Homo sapiens: one gene and its partner. The protein of the gene in region 1 interacts with the protein of each later gene in a biochemical or structural test. Each region holds a gene or a part of one and is shown on either strand. Other genes may lie near its edges.

Region 1 (7,029 bases):
CTTGGCCTCCCAAAGTGTTGGGATTACAGGCACGAGCCACGGTGCCTGGTTCTATTTCATATTCCTTTTATTAGAAAAGCTAACATTTCACCTACATGTCTTAATATGATTAAGACTTTGTAGTTTGTAGTGAGTGAAAATCAAGCATTCTTAACCGCCAGTATTAAAGTTTTGAATTGATGGGCTCGTATCTACTTTGTTAAAATTAAAGAAGTGTTATCTTATTACTGACATAGTATCTTGAACTTTACAATCAGTTTTCTTTTTATTTCTTGAAATGACATCTAATGTATACATTAACTATCATGAATATTAACTCAGCTGTGATATAAAAAAAATCATTGTTAAGATTCATGCATGTACCTTTTTATAGTTCTTTACACTTTGATTAGACCAATAGAATAAGGAGCCATATTTTGGCATATTTTGGGTATATTTCCATAGATAATTTGTATTCTCAAGAATATTTTGTGTTATACCTTGTTTTAGTGATCGTGGTGGAGAAGACCCAAACCAGAAAGTAATCCATGGGGTTATTAACTCCTTTGTTCATGTTGAACAGTATAAGAAAAAATTCCCCTTAAAGGTAAACAGCCTCCTTTAAAAACAAATAATCAGACTGTTAATTTCTTAAACTGCTTGTTCTAATTTCTTCTAATATGATGTAATTGATTTATTCAGTTTTATCAGGAAATTTTTGAGTCTCCCTTTCTGACTGAAACAGGAGAGTATTACAAACAAGAAGCTTCAAATTTATTACAAGAATCAAACTGCTCACAGTATATGGAAAAGGTAAGAAATAAAACATATCGAATACATTTATCTATTTTGTATCTGGCCTGGTTTTATTTAACATCGTTCTTAGTTTTCTTGTTTTGTTTCTTGGTGGAAAAATATTCTGTTTATTTAATCTATTTAATCATTAACTCTGAGTTACAGTTATTATATAATATCGATTGATAAGTCATTGCTCTTTACAATACCCTTCCAGTTTTCATCATAATTGATGCTTTTTGATAAATCCTGACTGCTTGGTTTACTTGTCCTTGAAATTAATATATATGCACATTCTTGGCAGAATAATCAGTTTATACTGGATTTCATGCTTAGTGGTTAGTTTAGAGAATAGGATAAGTGCAGAAGCTCTGTGTTGAGGTTTTTTTCTTCCTTTAAAATGAGAGGAAAAATATGAGGAAAATATAGTAATTCTAGACATTTGGATGAGTCACTCTTTTGGTCTGTTAAGTTCTTGAAAGGCTGAGAGACAACCCCACGTGAGGTGTTTTTTTTTTTTTTTTTTTTTTTTGGAGATGTGGTCTTGCTCTGGTGCCCAGACTAGAGTGCAGTGGCTTGATCATGGCTCCCAGGCTCAAGTGGTCCTCCTGTCTCAGCCTACGAAGTAGCTGGGACTACAGGCACACACCACCACGCCCAGCAACTTTTAAAATTTGTTATAGAGATGGGGTCTTGCTGTGTTGCCCAGGCTGGTCTCAGAACTCCTCAACTTGAGCAGTCCTCCTGCCTCAGCCTCCCAAAGCGCTGGGATTTTAGATGTGAGCCATTGCACCCAGCCAAGAAATTTTAATTGATCACTAAACCAGTACATATTGGTTATCATATGTTAAATCCCATGTTTATTTTCTCAGTAGTAGAAGAAAAAAGTGTTCATACAAATTAAACCACCATATGTAAGATATATTAGAACTTCTAGCCAGGTTTTTAAATCTGCAGTGTTGGATTTCAAGCATTTTATTTTGGGATGGTTTGTGTTAGTTTATGTAGCCAAGAAAGGTCGAGTAGTTTAAGTGGGTGAGCTGTCATCCTACATCCCTAGGCCACAAGTCACAAAGCATCCGTGCTTACCGATACACTGTTGTGTCATCCACAAAGCCCAGATCTAGAGGTCTTAGTTGTTTGATTATCTTCCTGCTTTTCTTACTAGTTAGCTCTGTCCCCTGAGCAAATTATCTGGAACTTTTCCCCCATCAATTAAGTTCAGGTTACACTAGATCAGTGGTTCTAAGCTCTTAGCCCTTATTGCACCTTAGACTTTTGTTGAAGCCTCTAGATCCAGCCCCAAGAATCACACACAGATTATCTGTGATACATGCACTTTGCTCTGTCTGGCTGTCAAAAATATGCCACTGGCAAGTGGTGGCAGTAGCCCAGATGTCTGTTAGAAGTTGAAAGAATAAGCAAAATGTGATACATATGTGCATTGGAATATTATTCATCGTGTGTAGTGAAAAACTCTCTCAAACCATGTTTTTCCTCTACTCTCACACCACAGCAACAATCATCAGCACAGAAGGCTTCTGTAAACAAAGGTGTGGCTCTCTTCTCCCACACACCAAGCAGCAGACACCAGCTAGGTGTCCTCCAGTTCAACTCTAACACCATCTACTTGAGATAGTGGCTAATCCCACAGTTTGGGGACTGAGTCTCCAAGACTGCCCTGCACACCCCCAGACACCAGTCACAAGTCTGGGCCTCCGGACTACTGACCGACTGGCTTTCAAGTTGAAGTCCTACAGTACACTGTTTGGGTTCCATTAATTTGCTAGAGCAGCTCACAGAACTTAGGGAAACACTCACTTAATGTTTACTAGTTCATTAAGAAGGATATTTTAGAGGATACAAATAAACAACCACTTGAGGAGACACATAAGGGAAGGTCTGAAATCACCATGAGTGCAGGAGCTTCTATCCCTGTGGAACCCAGTCTTCTTGGATTTTTGTGGAAGCTTCATGATGTCAGTAGTCTTTCCCCCAGCGTACAGGGTGGGGCTTTCTCTGGGGAGGGTCTTATGACCCACAGTCAGAAAGGTAGGGCAAGATTAGAGTCCTGCCTTGAGGCAGGTGAAAGGAGAGTAGGAGAGAAATTCTGTTTCCTGAGACCTAACACACTCAACATTATAACTAAAGACTGTAACTAGGGCTAAGGGAGTTATGAACCAGGAACCACAGATGAAAACCAATGTACTTACATATCACAACACCACACAGTCTTTAAAAAGAATTGAAGTTATACATGATACAACATGGATGAACCATGAAAATGTTATGCTAAGTGGAAAAAGACAGACACAAAAGGGCAAATATTCTGTGGTTCAATTTATAGGAAATATCTAGAACAGACAAATTCAAAAGGACAGAAGATAGATTAGAGGTTATCAGGGGAGGAGGATGTGAGGAGTTGTTACTTAATGGTTATAAAGTTTCTGATGGGGTAATGAAAAATATTTGGAAGTAGACAATGGGGGTGATTACACAACATAGTGAGCGTTATTTAATGCCACTGAATTGCCCACATAAAAATGGCTAATGTAAATTTTATTATCTATGTTTTTACCACAATTTAAAAACATTGATAATGTAATATACCAAAACCATTGAATTGCACACTTTAAATGGGTGAATTATTTAATATGTAAATTACATCTCAAGGTGTTAAAAGGGAAGGAGGGACATTGGAATAAATTATGTTTGGAAAAGAATGTTTATTAGAAAAGCTTATTTCAGGCTGGGCACGGTGGCTCAGACCTGTAATTGCAGCACTTTGGGAGGCTGAGGCGGGCAGATTACGCAAGTCCAGGAGTTCAGGACAAGCCTGGGCAACGTGGCAAAACCCCATCTCTACAAAAAATTAAAAAACTAGCCACACATGGTGGTGTAGTCGTCTGGTCATAGCTCTTGGGACGCTGAGGTGGGAAGATCACTTGAGCCTGAGAGGCGGAAGTTGCAGTGAGCCGAGATTGCACCACTGCCCTCCTGCCTGGGCCAGAGAGCGAGATCCTGTCTGACAAAAGAAAGAAAAAGAAAAGCTCATTTCAGGAAATAATGTTGGACCATATTAGCTTCAAGGGCAAAACCCTGGGCTTTGCTCTCCATTTAGTTAATTGGGGAATGAGTCAGTACAGCCTTCCTGCCTCCTTGCTGCGTTCCTCTTATAGCTTTGGCCTTTCTTTCCCCCAGGGGTTTTACAGCTGTTTGAAGCCCTGCACTGGGGCAGTCCAACCTTCTCTACATTTCTCTTGATATGCGCCTCTCTCTCCCAAGTTATCATTGTTTTATTTTTTCCTTCTTCCATCCTCCTTCACCTCTCTCAGACCCACTGTAATTCCTGTTGCATTAACTTGGCAAGCAGATTAAAGTCACTATAGTATGCTCTGAATGACTAATAGACTTAATCCTTTTTGTTATAAAAATAGCCCTTAAAGGATTTATTGTTAATCAAAGTGCCTTTCTTAGCTGATGTAATATGTGGTGAACACTTTTGTCCTCTAGACCAGGGGTCCCTGACCCTCAGGCTGAGGACCAGTACTGACCTGTGGCCTGTTAGGAACTGGGGAGGACCAGTACTGACCTGTGGCCTGTTAGGAGGAACCGGGCTGCACAGCAGGGAGTGAGCAGCCACTGTGTGAGCATTACCTACTGCCTGAGCTCCGCCTCCTGTCACATCAGCAGCAGCATTAGATTCTCATAGATTCTCACAGAGCGCAAACTCCATTGTGAACTCTGCATGCAAGGGGTCTAGGATGTGCGCTCTTTAGAAGAATCTAATGCCTGAGGATCTGAGGTGGAATACTTCACCTGGAAGCCACCTGCCCCCACCAATGCCGCCCGCACTCCGTCTGTGGAAAAATTGTCTTCCACAAAAGCAGAGCCTGGTGCCTAAAAGGTTAGGGACTGCTGCTCTAGACCCCTTCTTGCCCGACCTGAGTCTGTGACTTTGCCCTGAACTCCTGGCTTCAAAGGGTCGCACAATAGGAAAGACAGGACTGTGGGAACCTACTGTCTGGAGCCTCATTTTTATTGAAAATTTCTGATCCGCTTTCCAGGAATGATTTTCACTCCTTGTGCCCAGGCCAACTCAGCAGCACTCTCCAAAGTGCCAGGTGTATGTAGTTCCCCGGGAACACTTAATTTCAGAAACTCTAATTACACAGCTTTATGTTCCAGAGTGTTTCCAAGCCGGTGCATTTGTCTGTGTATATGTTGTTGTTTTGTCTTGAGACAGAAATTAGTCAAATTCTTTGGTTATTTTCCTTATGGGCTAGTTCTTGTTGATATTAACCAGTGTTATTTGTAGCTCAGCGCTTTATGTAGGATAAACTTTAATAAAAGTCTTGATTGACATACTTGACTATGACTAAATTATATTTACTTTCAAATTTTTTATTTTTTATTTATATTTATTTTTTGAGACAGAGCCTCGCTCTTATTGCCTAGGCTAGAGTGCAGTGGCGTGATGTCGGCTCACTGCAACCTCCTCCTCCTGGGTTCAAGCAGTTCTTCTGCCTCAGCCTCCCGAGTAGCTGGTGCTACAGGCACCTGCCACCACACCTGGCTAATTTTTTGTATTTTTGTAGAGACGGGGTTTCACCATGTTGGCCAGGCTGGTCTCAAACTCCTGACCTCATGTGATCCACCCACCTCGGCCTCCCAAAGTGCTGGGATTGCAGGCATGAGCCACCTTGCCTGGCCTTATTTTTATTTTTTTGAGACAGTGTCTCACTCTGTCACACAGGCTGGAGTGCAGTGGTGCGATCTTGGCTCGTTACAACCCCCACCTCCCGGGATGAAGTGATTCTCTTGCCCTGGCCTCCCAAGGAGCTGGGATTACAGGCATGCCCGGCTAATTTTTATATTTTTAGTAGAGACAGGGTTTCGCCATATTGGCCATGCTGGTCTCAAACTCCTGACCTCAGATGATCCACCTGCCTTGGCCTCCCAAAGTACTGGGATTACAGGTGTGAGCCACCATGTCCAGCCCCTACTTTCAAAAATTTTAATTAAATCTTTAATATGGTAGTTAACTATCATGCACATACAGTTCCATTTACAAGAAGAGAAACCAACGTAAAATAATTAGATTCATCTACTTGATTTCAATATAATTTATTTTTTAGTTTGATAGTTATTCATAACAGAGATCACCTGTTCTGAATTTAATCATCTGTACCCACTTTTCCTGTTACATGTTATGTTGTCCATGTAATAGGATGAATGGTGTAGGTAAATGAAGACAAAATGCAGACTATTTAACTTTAGTTCTTGCTTATAAGACTGGTGGAATGTAGATGACAGCTAGTAGCTTAAATAAAAATTTGAAATGATTTATAGAATGTGGGTTTAAATTGCTTATGTAACCCTTATTACCTTTGCCATGTTTAATTCAGCCATTAAAATTTGGCTGAGTTACTTGCTGATATTACAGATTTTTCCTCATAGTAAAACTTTGTGTTCATGACTGTAAGAAAATATTTTTATAGGTTCTAGGTAGATTAAAAGATGAAGAAATTCGATGTCGAAAATACCTACATCCAAGTTCATATACTAAGGTGATTCATGAATGTCAACAACGAATGGTAGCAGACCACTTACAGTTTTTACATGCAGAATGTCATAATATAATTCGACAAGAGAAAAAAAATGGTAAGTGACACCAAACATGAGTAGAAATTAAATTATAAATCCACCTTTTATATCATCCTCTAGTCACCCTTGATTTAATGCCTATTTTAGTAATAGTCTTTAAAATATTTTAAATAACCTTTTACAGATTATTAATACTTTATTTTGAAAGACTATTTTAGGAAAGTGTTTTCAGAGTGTTCTAAAATCAGAAGAAAAAGTGGGAAATTGTGTTTATACATTTTTATATATTACAAGAGCTAATTTCCTTAATGCATTTAGAATTCCTGATAAACAGTAGGAATAAAGGCAAAGACTATAAAAAGGAAATACAAATATTATGTAATAAATGTAATAATTTATATAATATAAAAAATCAGCTATATCTGATTTTTTTTTTTTTTTTTTTTTTTTTGAGACAGAGTCTCACTCTGTCGCCCAGGCTGGAGTGCAGCGGCGTGCTCTTGGCTCGCTGCAACCTCCGCCTCCCAGATTCAAGTGATTCTCCTGCCTCAGACTCCTGAGTAGCTGGGATTACAGGCGCTCATCACCACACCTGGCTAATTTTTTTGTACTTTTAGTAGAGACAGGGTTTCACCATGTTGGTCAGGC
Region 2 (7,029 bases), on another chromosome or scaffold:
CCCAAGGGAGGCAGCATCCATCCATCGCCCACCACACTGCCTGTGCCTGCTGGTGCTATCCCAAGGGACTCAGTCACTTCAGGACACCCGTCTGGCTGCACTCCCAATGTGACATGGTACAAAGGGCCCTAGCTTCATTCTCCTCACCCCACCTACCCACTGAAGGTGAGCACAAATGATCTGTACTACCCACTGAAGCACACAGAATCACTGGGTAGTTCACAGTAAAAATCTTTCCATCTCACTAATGTTAAATGAGCCCAGATTTTGGTTAAAGAATGTCAATCAGCTCTGATAACATAAAGCCCTGGGTTGGAGTCAGAGCTCCAACTGAGTCCCAACTGAGTGACCCTGTACATGCTTCCAAACTTCACTGTGCCCGTGTCCTCATCCATAAAGCCGAAATAACAGAACCTCTTTGCGAAGCTACTGTGGGGATTATTAAATGAGATGGTGCATGTCAAGCACTTAGCACAGTGCTGGTCCATATTATGTGCCAATCAACGTTAATTGTTTTCATCCCTATTATTATTTAGAACGTAGAAGACACTGAGACAGACTGAACCTAGAACTACAAAAAGACAGGGCAGAAGAGATCACAAGGTGATGGTGTTTAAAACTACTAATTCACTAGCTATTGGACTTAAATGTACAACTATCCCGTTTCCTGTTTAATTAATAATTAAGAAGTGATCTGTGGCTTAATTTTGGGAATTGCATATGTAGGACAAGACATTAAACTTACCCTAACCTACAGGAAAAAAAATAAAAATAATTTCAAAAATGTTATGTAAAAATGATGTTAGTAGTTGTTTTCTAGTTTTGCTGCAATGTCGTTGAGATCTCCTATATTTAAAAATAACAAAGTCTATTTAAATAAAATCTAAGAAGACTAAAAATGACTATTTCATTAGTTAAGAGTATGAAAATACTTTGCCACAATTCTTCAGTTTCCCACTTAAAATCAGTTTTTAAATGTCTACTCTCATTGTAAGCAAACCAGCAAAAATGAGAGGGGATGAAGAAGAATGGGAAAGAAGAGACTCAGAAATCCCAGATCCTGATCCTGCTGGGACTCATTCCAAGAAGAAAAGAACCAAGAGATAATCCATCAGCTGGCTCTGTCAGCATCATTCATAGGCCAGTGACAAAAGAAAAAAAAAGAATTCCAATATACATGCAGTGTTCCAATCAGGGTTCAATGAAAAGCACAAACAAAATGTTAAGAATGATTTCAGTGGCAGTAGAGGGTTACCAAGACCATGGAGTCAGAATGCTTGAGTTAGAATCTCAATTCACCACTTATAAGCTGTGTGACCTTGAGAAGGGGAGTTAACCTTTCTACACCTCAGCGTCCTCATCTGTGAAACAGAGATAATAACAGTCCCTAACTTATTGAGGGTTGCTGTGAGGATTAAATGAGTTAATGCAGGCAAAGCAGTTGAAGCAAATCCAAGATCATCACTGAATTCGTGTTAGTCCCTCCCCATTCCCCTTTGCTCCTCCTCCCTCCCTGTGCCCCACCTGGGACTTCTCTTTCCTTCTCTCAGTTCCTTTCCACTCATACACTCTCCCTGGTGCCTCTTTTGAGTTCTTCCCACCGACCCCACCCCACCCCTGCCACCAGCTCCTGCCTAGCCCTGCACCTCACCTTCCCCTCCACTCTAGCCTACCAAACACCCACTCTCCTGCCACAGTTCTCTGTCCCCACCATGCCATGTTGTCGCTGGGCTTGGAAAGCTCCCACCTGACCCCATATGCCACCTGCACATGCATACACATCCTGTTCTTCACATAATCCAACTTCAAAAGCTAAAACTCACATGACAACTGCTAACCATTCCCCACATGTTCTCAAAGCCCCCGGGGCATCCATCTAACCTAGCAGGCATCATCGTCCCATGCATCCATTCCTTCTGTCTCCACAATGAACTCACTGAAGGAAGCTCCTGAAGCCCCGGTCTCCCCCACACAGTCCTGCCTGTGACAGCAGCACCTGGCAGCAAAAATCCCCTTGAATGTTTGCTGAATGGCTGAGTGAGGGAATGCCTCATTTGGTTCTGTTCTTTCTTATAACTTTTCTTCTCAAGAGTGATTTTTTAAAGGCTACCTAGGAGACTGTCATCACACAGTAATTGTAAGCATCAAAAACACTTTACGTGTTTCATCTCATTTAATCCTTTGGACCACTTATGATTTTTGCCTCCTACTTTCTTCCCTCTGCCCTCCCCCACAACTCTAAGCACCCCAGCCTCTGCTGTTCCTCAAATATAGGCCTGCTCCCCACTCTGAGCTTCTGCATTTGTATTCTCTCTGCCTGGAATGGCCCCTCAGCTCCATCAGGGCTTAGCTTAAAACCTCCTTAGTGAAGCCTTTCCTGGCTCCACTATTTAAAATTACAACACCCTCCACCCCACCCCACGCCCGCACACAGGGGTGCCTGCATGCACCCCTTCCCTGCTGTTTTTCTCTACAGAACCTATCACCATCTGACGTATTACACAATTTACTTGTTACTATCTGCCCCCTCCCCTACACTAAAAGGAAAACTTCATGAAATATGAAGAGCAGGGCCTGGTACATAGTAGATACCCAATAAACACTTGGTGACTGAACAGCCTTCAACAGGCAATTTTTAGGCATGAGGGCTCTGAAGCGCACACAGAGCAGCTGGGTAACTCTACTCCAGTCCCTTGGCTAGGAGATGACAGAGCAAGGATTTGAATTCAGCCATTTTGGCTTTCTTGCCTCCCAACCTGACCCAGATAACAATTAAAAGACATCATCACATCCAGGGAGAAAACCCGAGCCCTGCATGTCTACAGGCCACAGAGAAGCCAGAAAAGCCATCCACTGGAAAGCCGCTCACCAGAACAAGTCATCTAACTCAAGACACTTCTGTGCGGCAAAGTATTATTTATCAGACTGATAATTTATACAGCACTGATAGTTTTTCTTTGGATTTCATAGTTCAGTAAAAACGAGAGATTTATCATGCCTTTATTATACTGTAATATCCTCAGGAACAGCAAAGTGACAAATCATCAGCTAATATGGAGGAGGCCTAAGGTAACATATGTTAAAAGCCAACAATTGTGGTAGTGGGGCAGGAGGAGAAGCACTGACTACAAGGGGACACAAGGGAACTTTTGGGGTAATGAAATGTTCTATATCTTTAGTAAATTCACCCAACAACACTTAAAATGAGTATAATTTTATAATACGTGAAATTATACCTAAATAATGTTGACTAAAAAGGTATTTGGTACATCAGATGTAATTTTTGGCTAAACAAAATAAACATTCCACTAAAACACGCACACACACACACGCACGCACACACACACATATTTCTGTAGCTAATATTCCCACATCAGAGCCAAAAAAAAAATGCACAAGGAGTTATGTATTAGCTCCTAGGCATCCCAACTTTTGGGGGACAAAGAATTAGGAAAAAGCAGCAGTAAAGAGTGGCACATGATGAGACCCAGTGGGCTGGGCTAGTGTGTGGTTCGGGAGTCCTGCCTGACCACCAGCAAACACAGCTCCCACGACCCACAGCTGATATCGACTGTGTCCTCCTCCAGTCCTCTGGGTCACCTCTGACCAGAATGTACAGGCAGCCAGGATGAAAAAGATACATCACTGCTCTTCACAAGGGCTTCTACCACGTATCTGACCAGCGACAGTGACAAGTCTGGATGCTGAAGTATCAGAATTCTTAGTTGAGAGCATCAGAAACTAATTCTAGGTAATTTAAACAGAAAAGTGATTTAAAAAAAGGGGAGGCGGCTATTAGACAGTTCACAGAATCTCCCCCTGGCCATAACAATGCCTAAGGGGACACAGCAGACTGCATCATCATTGCAGCAACAACTAGACCTTGCCTCTAGAAGCAGCACAGCAGCCACCACTGTGCATCCCCCCAGAAAATGGCCACATGGGCTACTCTTCTTTCCTTGCCTCCAGCCTCAGGTTCACAGTCTCAGGCGAGTGTGTCTGAGAAGATCTGCCTGCCAGGGTAAGAATTCTCCAATCAGACCAAGAGTCAATGGACTGACAGTGTCCATTACAGACACTAATCATAAACTAATATGGAGGAGGCCTAAGATGACATATGTTAAAAGCCAACAATTGTGGTCGTGGGGCAGGGGGAGAAGCACAAATGGATTACTCCCCGTCTCTGCAAATCTACTGATACAGGCCAGCAAAAAATTTCACAAGGAAAAAAAAATCCTCGAAGGCAGAACTAAAATAAATCATACCACAGGTAATGCTATTTGAAGAGGGCAGGGGTCTTTTTCATATCTAGTGTTTTTTTCAGTACATTAGTTACAAATGACAAGCCTATCTTCCTAGATTGAACATAACTCATTAACAGCATTTTCTGATTAAAAGCAATTCAAACCTGAAGTAGCAGATACTTTGCTACATCTAAAACTGTCACACAATGATTGTTAAAATACCTAATTCTATTTAGAATGCATTTCAATGTTTTCCTTCTTAAAACACATTTTAAAATACATGTTCTGCTTAGAATACTTCTCAAGAGGTACTTCTCCTAATGTAAATTTCAAAAGAAAAAAAGCAAGCTATGAGAAGAATTAATACCAATTCGAGTTGACCAACTATAAAAATTTACCAGCATTTATGTCAGATTCATCAAAGAAAATTTTACTCTGTAAATCTGAAGAAAGACTTTCAGTGATCTCACTATATTGTTAACTTAAGAAATAAATCCTTAGGACCAGAATATGGATATAAAACAAAAAGAAGGGAAAAGGACAAACACTCTAGGCCCCTTAACATCAGACCTGTTAATGCTGCCTTAACCTTGTGCAGGTAGGACGCTGACACGAGAGACCAGAAACGGACGTGTGCACATTCACAAACACTCCTTCTGTTCCCTCAGCACATCACCAGCATTTTACTCTTTCCTTGAGAATTTCTCCACGCCACATTCTCTAAAACTGATATCTGCATGTTTGAAAAATATTAAATTAGTTTGCATACAACTGACTTTGTCTAAAAAATGCAAAGAATGAGTAGGTGAAAGCTTGTGTTCCTTGAAGAAAAATCTAAAGATAATGAAAGACAACAGGAACAGGAAGAATTAATTTTTCTAGATAATGCACAAGTTATTCAATAGTTGATCATTTAAGTTCAATTCAATACATATTTGGGTAGCTATGCAAGGCATCATGCTAGATGCTAAAGTGGATACTGGGTAAGACATGGTCCCAGATCTCAAAAAGGTAATAATCTAATTGGGGAGGGGAAATAAAAGTAAACAAGCAGCTATTGTTATGTAACATAAAACTGAGTAACAGAAGGAAGCACTGCTTCAGAGATTCCATGAAAGGAGAGTCTGCTAGAGAGGGAGCACAGTAAAGAAAAATTCTAAAACAGCAGCACTGAGGGCAGCTGGAGCCGGGTGCAGTGGCGTGCATCTATAACTTCAGCTACTCAGAGACTGAGGTGGAAGGACCCCTGAAGCCCAGAGTTCGAGTCCAGCCTAGGCAACATAACAAGACCCAACCTCTAAAAAAAAAAAAACAAAAAAGAAAGAAAAATGTATTGCTGGTTATTATAACACTGTAAGAAAGGCTGTCTCAGACATAAGGCCATGGCAATAGGTATGGGAAAGAGAGGCTGGGCATGGGAAGAGATGCAATCTCTCCTTGCCACTGACCAGGGAAGAAGAGGATAAGAAATGTCCAGGATTTCAGTGTGGGTTATTAAAATTACTGCAGCTTCATTTACCAAATGAATAAAATTTATTAGTTTTGTTCTCTTCTTTGACTATTAAAAAGCTCAGTGCCAAATATTTCTAACATATGGCAAGTGTTTCTGTGTACCTTACAAGTCTATATATAAATTTTTCTTCTCTTGACAGGGTTTTATCTATATTTAGCAAGTCACCCCTAATTCTTTTAGAATAAGGCAGAAAATAAATCAACGTAAAGGTTGAGACCAAGCCAGAGACAGCTGGCCAAAGTAGCTGGTTCAGGGATATAACCTGCAAGTTGCCAACCCAGCGCATTCTTCTCACCCTTCTTCCACCCTACGAAAGGCCATATCTTACAAGAGATGCTGGTAAATGCCAGACATTCACTGTGTCAGGCTTCCTCACAGCTAGCAGTGGCATGAGATCAGTTCAATCCAATGACACTGAAATGGAACTCTCCAAAGTGAGTTTCTGCAAAAGACTTCTCTGTTAACAGGGAGTTATAAGGAAATATGCACCTTCCTTCCCTGCTTTCCAATCCAGGCATGATGTCTGGTGCTACGGCAACCATACTGCAAACATGAGGCAAATGAGCCTGAGGAATAAAAGCTAAAACACTAATAGAAGAAGAAAAAGATGCAGAACCTAGATCCTTAATGACATCATTAAGCCACTGCACCAGCTTTAGAACCAACTACTTCTAGGTTTCTTGCTACCGAACAATAATAAGCCCTATTATTTAAGCCATTAATTTGAGCATTGTATTGGCAAAGGCATCCTAACTGATACAAGAGATCATCATGAGGTCAGTTTCTCACAGGTTGATTTTTATACTGCTAAGTTAGCAGGATTATTAGCTATTAATTATTAGTTATAATTAGCAGATGATGATTGAGATAATAATGTAAACGTAGCCAGGAAGAAGGTAATAAGCCAAGAAGAGCTGCTGGGAGCAACTTAACATAAAAACAGAAAAGGAGACAATGATAAAGTTTGAAAAAACATGATTAAGTGCCAGTAGGGGTACACAGAGTTAACAACAGAGGAAGAAGAGAGTGAAGTCCACTAAGAGAAAATGAGGCAGGCCTTCTTTTCTGGCAATGTTACAGACAAGATTACCTAAAAATCCTTCTTAATATAAAACAGTCAAAAATTCTGGATAACGTGTAAGAAACATCTGTTTAAATGCACAGCTACGTTCACAAGAAAATAAAGGACCTCCCCAAGCGCCAAAAATCAAAAAGGAACCTAAAAACCAGAGCAGAAAGTGTGTAGGAGCCTAGGGCTTTGGGGAATGGAGG

Evidence for each region. Proteins that work in one complex are often made in the same cells at the same time.
Region 2: of the proteins of CUL2 (region 1) and DCUN1D4, one has a biochemical effect on the other in vitro, tested with the Homo sapiens proteins (2 studies listed by BioGRID, with this or other methods).

What each region holds. Positions count from the first base shown.
Region 1 is NC_000010.11:35,038,329-35,045,357, reverse strand, and holds part of CUL2 (cullin-2), read left to right. Parts: intron 1-489; coding exon 490-586; intron 587-681; coding exon 682-792; intron 793-6,275; coding exon 6,276-6,438; intron 6,439-7,029.
Region 2 is NC_000004.12:51,846,153-51,853,181, reverse strand, and holds part of DCUN1D4 (DCN1-like protein 4), read right to left. Parts: intron 4,978-7,029; exon of another isoform or gene 4,815-4,977; intron 4,761-4,814; exon of another isoform or gene 1-4,760. UniProt on the Homo sapiens protein: Contributes to the neddylation of all cullins by transferring NEDD8 from N-terminally acetylated NEDD8-conjugating E2s enzyme to different cullin C-terminal domain-RBX complexes which are necessary for the activation of cullin-RING E3 ubiquitin ligases (CRLs).